2 linked regions of the Homo sapiens genome follow. The protein of the gene in region 1 purifies or fractionates together with the protein of each later gene. This does not show direct contact. Each region holds a gene or a part of one and is shown in the gene's direction. Other genes may lie near its edges.

Region 1 (3,652 bases):
AGCGTCAAGTGCAGTGGCACGATCTCGGTTCACTGCAAGCTCCGCCTCCCGGGTTCACGCCATTCTCCTGCTTCAGCCTCCTGAGTAGCTGGGACTACAGGCGCCCGCCACCACGCCCAGCTAATTTTTTTTTTTTTTTGTATTTTTAGTAGAGATGGGGTTTCACCATGTTAGCCAGGATGGTCTCGATCTCCTGACCTCGTGATCCACCCGCCTCGGCCTCCCAAAGTGCTGGGATTACAGGCGTGCGCCACCGCACCCGGCCTACACTTCCATTTTTATGTCGTCAGCTACTTATGGCTCCAAGGAAGCTTGGGAAACATATACGTTGCCTTTAGGAATAAAACAGTGTTCTGTGCATAAGGAGAAGGGGAGATGAATACGGGCCAGTTGCAGCCTCTGCCCCAGAAGGTGACCTGGAAGCCAGGCAGGAGCTCCACGCTATGATGAGGAGCTCTGCCTACTGACTCACAGCAGTAAGGTCAGGTTGAAGTGGGGTTTCCAGCCGGCTAAGGCCAGAAACCTGGACTGAAATTAGGGGTGAAGCCAAAACAGCAAATAGGAAGAAAAGCTGGGGGCAGAGGCTTCCAGGAGACCCAATCAGAACCAAGAACGTGGGAGGTGGGGGGCCAAGGTCAGAACCAGCCAAGAGGGGCTGGAGAAACATCGTGGTCCAGCTGGTGGCTAGAAGTCAGGGTTGGCAGGAGAGGCAGAGCAGAGTGTTCCTAGGAGCCGAGCGGGTCTGCTGGGCTCTGGTCTGATGATGGCATCTCTCCCCACACCTGGAACTGGATCACAGGTTCAGCCCCGCACGTCCAGCCGGCCTACCACCCCACAGGGTCTTGACCCCATTTGCTATAAATGATACACAGATAGTGACGACTGCTGTACGCGGGATGAAAAATTAACAACACCTAGGTAGATCTTTACATGGTGACCTTAAAATAAACCTGCAGATTTGACTACATACTTTCACATCCCCAATTTCTTTAACCCATGTGACCTCCCACAAGCCTGAAGAGAGAACAAAATAAAATTCTTTATGGGTGACAGTCATGAGCTGTGCTTGGCTCCAAAAACCCGACTAAAGATGTAACAAGGTGCGGTGTTGGGCGCATTTATCCTGTGTTAACTTCCTATGTTAACGTGCTGTGACACCAGAGGTAAGTTACGCTCACCTCTCTGAGCCCTGGTTTCTTTGTAAAATGATGGAGCTGGGTCAGATGATTCTCTGTTTGTTTCCAATTCTGAAATTCTACGAACCTAAAACCTGTGTAAAACTGCTCCACGTTACTTGATAACTTAGATGCTTCAGAAGCACTTGCACTGGTGCAGTGGGCCAGATCTCCTCCCTCGCCCTGGATTAACAGAGGTCCTTGTTCCTTCTCCCCTCCTCTCACCCGTATCTTTGCAGGTGTGCATCCTCGAGTGTGAAGAGAAGGTCTTCCCCAGCCCCCTCTGGACTCCATGCACCAAGGTCATGGCCAGGAGCTCTTGGCAGCTCAGCCCTGCCGCCCCAGAGCATGTGGCGGCTGCTCTCTACCAGCCGAGAGCTTCGGAGATGCAGCATCTGCGGCGAATGCCCCGAGTCCGGAGCTTGTTCCAGGAGCAGGAAGAGCCCGAGCCTGGCATGGAGGAGGCTGGTGAGATGGAGCAGAAGCAGCTGCAGAAGAGATTTGGGGGCTTCACCGGGGCCCGGAAGTCGGCCAGGAAGTTGGCCAATCAGAAGCGGTTCAGTGAGTTTATGAGGCAATACTTGGTCCTGAGCATGCAGTCCAGCCAGCGCCGGCGCACCCTGCACCAGAATGGTAATGTGTAGCCGGAAGGGGCGCTCCTCCCAGCTGTACCGGCCACTGCAACCCATGAGTGAGTTGGGCACCAATAAGCTGGGGGCAAGGAGAGACCTCACACACCAACTGTCTTAGCCTTGCTCCCAGGCCTAGAAGCACATTCATCTCCCCGCCCCCTCCCCACTCCACACACACACACCCCGCAAGGAGTCCAGCCCACCCTTTCTCTAGGCAGCAGATTTTCCTATGATTGCACCTTGAAGCTGACCACTTCCGGCTAGAGACTGGTTACCATGGGGATAATAGTAGTATGTTAAGATAACTAATTCCTCTATCACTCCCCAGGAGCTTAGTTACTATGGGGACAGTTAAGTGGACCAATACGCCCATCCAGTTGCCACAGCAACCAGTCAGCTCACCTTTCCTCGAGATTGTCTCTCTAAACACCAAGAGTGGGACCTACTCTTAGCCATTAGCAGAGTCCAATTACCACAGCTATGATGGTGCTATTTCATCTTCAAAGACGGCTTACCTATCCCCTCTCCTTTCCCCAGCTCTCAGGGTGCCTGGCTCCATGGAAACATTAAAGTTTCCCATTTTACCTGGACAAAGAGTTCCTGTTAAGATTAGGAGTTGTGGTTTCTGCTCTTCCTCCTTCCACAAGCCATTTGTCCATCCTGCCACCTTGCCAGAGAGGGACTGATTCCTTGTGGTCAACGGTATCATTACTGAGCAAGACGTGGAGAATTTGGTCCAATGGACCTAGTAGCTACTAGAATATGGACTAAAGGGGTTCATCTTCTTTCCTCCATTTGGCTTCTTTCCAGCGTGCCATTTTTGTTTTGGTTTTGTTTGCTTGCTTTTATTCCTCTCTTTCTTCCTTGTTCTCTCTTTCTTCTGCTCTGTTCCTATACCCACAGGCACCTTATACAAGTCCACATGTCTCATAATATACATCAAATACCCTAACTGATTGCCTGTTCATTCAAAACCCAACTTTCCTTAGGATATCAACCAATACATCACTTTGAGTGGCATTGGCAACCTAGCACAGTAGAATTTTCTGAAAATTTAGGAAACTCCCAACCATCAAGGCTATGTGCCTTAATTTGTATATGGGAATATGATCATCTGCAGAGTCCCATACGTCTCCTTAAATAGCTAAGAAACTTGCCATATTCATCCATTTTGCATTGCTACGAAGGAATACCTGAGGCTGGGTACTTCATAAACAAAGTTTATTTGGCTCACGTTCTGCAGTCTATACAAGAAGCATGGCACCCGCATCTGCTTCTGGTGAGGCCCTCGGGGAGCTTTTACTCATGGCAGAAGGCAAGGGGAGCTGGCGTGCCACATGGCAAGAGGGGGCAAGAGGGGGAAAAGGGGAGGTCCCAGCCTCTTTAACAACCAGATCTCCCACGAACTCATTACCATAGGGTGGGCACAAAGGCATTCCTGAAGGATCCACCCCCATGACCCAAACACCACCCACTAGGCCCACCTCCAACATTAGGGATCACATCTCAACATGAAATTGGAAGAGGACAAACTTCTAAACTGTATCATTGTCCTAACACAAAGAACCAGTCAGATCATCAAAATCACCCCAAAACATTACCCAAGTGGGGCTTTTCCCTGAGTCCGAGCATAAGAGAAAAATGTCTGCATGTGCTATTTTAAGTTGCGTCCCATGTGTCAGAGGTAGCCGTGTCACTAATAACCTTCCTTGATGATCTATTAGTACATATGCTAATGTTTGGTGCCCACACTTTAGCATGGAGACGGCCCCTTTGCAGGTAGGCCAACATGTTCACCACGGGCCTGTTACCAAATATGGACACGTGTATTAAGTTGTGAAGAGA
Region 2 (3,652 bases), on another chromosome or scaffold:
TCTGCCTCCTGGGTTCACACCATCCTCCTGCCTCAGCCTCCCGAGTAGCTGGGACTACAGGCGCACGCCCGGCTAATTTTTTTATATTTTTAGTAGAGACGGGGTTTCACCGTGTTAGCCAGGATGGTCTGGATCTCCTGACCTTGTGATCTGCCCGCCTCAGCCTCCCAAAGTGCTGGGATTATAGGCATGAGCCACCACGCCTGGCCTGGATTATTTCTTGGAAGTGGAAGTTTTGAGTCAAAAACTAGAAATTGTTTTTAATCTTTGTTACTATTACCAGATTGTTTTTCAGAAGCAGTCAAACTAATTTAAAACACTCACTCCCAACAGGGCATTCTGGCTCATGCCTACAATCCCAGCACTTTGGGAGGCCAAGGCAGGTGGATCACCTGAGGTCAGGAGTTCGAGACCAGCCTGGCCAACATGGTGAAACCCTGTCTCTACTAAAAATACAAAAATTAGCTGGGCGTGGTGGTGCACACCTGTAATCCCAGCTACTCAGGAGGCTGACACAGGAGAATCGCTTGAACCCGGGAGGTGGAAGTTGCAGTGAGCCGAGATTGCACCACTGCACTCCAGCCTGGGTGACAGAGCGAGACGCTGTCTCAAAAAAAAAAAACAAAAAAAACCCACACACACCCATTCCCTTAAACACTCAAAGTCTTTTTCACTTCAGGACTAATTTATTACTTAATCTCTAGGTTACTAAGTAGTCATAATGAGGCAAGTAGGGCATGTGGGAGTCAGACAGACTTGGGCTTGAACACAATCTTGCTGTATATTACTGCTGAACCTCAAGGGTTTGTTTTGTTTTTTGTTGTTGTTGTTGTTTTTGAGACAGTCTCGCTCTGTTGCCCAGGCTGGAGTGCAGTGGCACAATCTCGGCTCACTGCAGCCTCTGGCTTCCTGCAGCCTCTGCCTCCTGGGTTCAAGGGATTTTCCTGCCTCAGCCTGCTGAGCAGCTGGGATTACAGGCATGAGCCACCGCGCCCAGCCTGCATGGGCTCATTCTCTTATCTGACATGGAGAGAGAAAAGGGTGCAGACATCCAGGCTAGCCTCCTTCCGTGGCCATTTCTACTCTTACCACCCACCCCTTCCTCCATTTCTCCTATATAGTTCCTGCCTCACGCTGGGGACCGCATCTTGATCACGGGGGCAGCCGACTCTAAGGTGCATGTGCACGACCTGACAGTAAAGGAGACCATCCACATGTTTGGAGACCACACAAACCGGGTGAAGCGCATCGCCACAGCGCCCATGTGGCCCAACACATTCTGGAGTGCTGCTGAGGATGGGCTTATCCGGTAAGAGTCTGGGGCATCTAGTGGAGCCTGTCGCTCCCCCATCCCATCATCCTATAGTGTTTCCTTCTACAGACCTAGCTCTTTCCCTCCAGCAGAGGTCCAACCTCCTTTGTCTGCCCAGGGCAGTTGTCTGTGTACAAACTCCACTGGGAACATTTGCTTACTCCGCCCTCACCTTCCTCCCTCTTTGCCCTCCTTTGTACTACCTCTAGGCCCACAAGCTTTTTCTCACCACCTCAGGTGTCCAGGGTCTCTACTGCCTCTGGGCATTCACGTTACTCTTTCCTCTACTTGAGATTCTCTGTCCCCAGCTCTTCCCATGTCGGACTCTTTCTTATCCTAAGGAGATCAGCTTCAGTTACCTCTTCAGAAGCACCTTCTCTGACCATCCTGTCTAAAGTAGACAGACGTTATGCTTGTTTTAACAATTATATCCTCTGTAACTCTAATTGCCACCTGTAGTTATTTTTATTAATTAATTAATTTTTATTTATTTATTTTTTTTTTTATTGATCATTCTTGGGTGTTTCTCGCAGAGGGGGATTTGGCAGGGTCATATGACAATAGTGGAGGGAAGGTCAGCAGATTAACAAGTGAACAAAGGTCTCTGGTTTTCCTAGGCAGAGGACCCTGCGGCCCTCTGCAGTGTTTGTGTCCCTGGGTACTTGAGATTAGGGAGTGGTGATGACTCTTAATGAGCATGCTGCCTTCAAGCATCTGTTTAACAAAGCACATCTTGCACCGCCCTTAATCCATTTAACCCTGAGTGGACACAGCACATGTTTCAGAGAGCACAGGGTTGGGGGTAAGGTCACAGATCAACAGGATCCCAAGGCAGAAGAATTTTTCTTAGTACAGAACAAAATGAAAAGTCTCCCATGTCTACTTCTTTCTACACAGACACGGCAACCATCCGATTTCTCAATCTTTTCCCCACCTTTCCCCCCTTTCTATTCCACAAAACCGCCATTGTCATCCTGGCCCGTTCTCAATGAGCTGTTGGGTACACCTCCCAGACGGGGTGGTGGCCAGGCAGAGGGGCTCCTCACTTCCCAGTAGGGGTGGCCGGGCAGAGGCACCCCTCACCTCCCGGACGGGGCGGCTGGCCGGGCGGGGGGCTGACCCCCCCCCCACCTCCCTCCCGGACGGGGCGGCTGGCTGGGCGGGGGGCTGACCCCCCCACCTCCCTCCCGGACGGGGCGGCTGGCCGGGCAGGGGGCTGACCCCCCCACCTCCCTCCTGGACGGGGCGGCTGGCTGGGCAGAGGGGCTCCTCACTTCCCAGTAGGGGCGGCCGGGCAGAGGCGCCCCTCACCTCCCGGACGGGGCGGCTGGCCGGGCAGAGGGGCTCCTCACTTCCCAGACGGGGTGGTTGCCGGGCGGAGAGGCTCCTCACTTCTCAGACGGGGCGGCTGCCGGGCAGAGGGGCTCCTCAGTTCTCAGACGGGGTGGTTGCCAGGCAGAGGGTCTCCTCACTTCTCAGACGGGGCGGCTGGGCAGAGACGCTCTTCACCTCCCAGACGGGGTCGCGGCCGGGCAGAGGCGCTCCTCACATCTCAGACGATGGGCGGCCGGGCAGAGACGCTCCTCACTTCCTAGATGGGATGGCGGCCGGGCAGAGACGCTCCTCACTTTCCAGACTGGGCAGCCAGGCAGAGGGGCTCCTCACATCCCAGACGATGGGCGGCCAGGCAGAGACGCTCCTCACTTCCCAGACGGGATGGCGGCCAGGCAGAGGCTGCAATCTCGGCACTTTGGGAGGCCAAGGCAGGCGGCTGGGAGGTGGAGGTTGTAGCAAGCCGAGATCACGCCACTGCACTCCAGCCTGGGCACCATTGAGCACTGAGTGAACGAGACTCCGTCTGCAATCCCGGCACCTCGGGAGGCCGAGGCTGGCGGATCACTCGCGGTTAGGAGCTGGAGACCGGCCCGGCCAACACAGCGAAACCCCGTCTCCACCAAAAAAATACGAAAACCAGTCAGGCGTGGCGGCACGCGCCTGCAATCGCAGGCACTCGGCAGGCTGAGGCAGGAGAATCAGGCAGGGAGATTGCAGTGAGCCGAGATGGCAGCAGTACAGTCCAGCTTCGGCTCGGCATCAGAGAGAGACCGTGGAAAGAGAGGGAGAGGGAGACCGTGGAAAGAGAGGGAGAGGGAGACCGTGGGGAGAGGGAGAGGGAGACCGTGGGGAGGGGGAGGGGGAGAGGGAGAGGGAGCTAATTAATTTATTTTCTGAGACAGGGTCTCACTCCATTCTATTGCCGAGGTTGGAGTGCAGTGGCGTGATCATGGCTCACTGCAGCCTTGACTTCCTGGGCTCAGGCGATTCTCCCACCTCAGCCTC

The links. The genes of interacting proteins can lie anywhere in the genome.
Region 2: the proteins of PNOC (region 1) and WDTC1 purify together in Homo sapiens (co-immunoprecipitation; 2 studies listed by BioGRID and IntAct, with this or other methods). This does not show direct contact.

The regions. Positions count from the first base shown.
Region 1 is NC_000008.11:28,337,626-28,341,277, forward strand, and holds part of PNOC (prepronociceptin isoform 1 preproprotein), read left to right. Parts: intron 1-1,021; exon of another isoform or gene 1,022-1,163; intron 1,164-1,414; coding exon 1,415-1,819; 3' UTR 1,820-1,866; intron 1,867-3,652.
Region 2 is NC_000001.11:27,286,553-27,290,204, forward strand, and holds part of WDTC1 (WD and tetratricopeptide repeats protein 1), read left to right. Parts: intron 1-1,121; coding exon 1,122-1,309; intron 1,310-3,652. UniProt on the Homo sapiens protein: May function as a substrate receptor for CUL4-DDB1 E3 ubiquitin-protein ligase complex.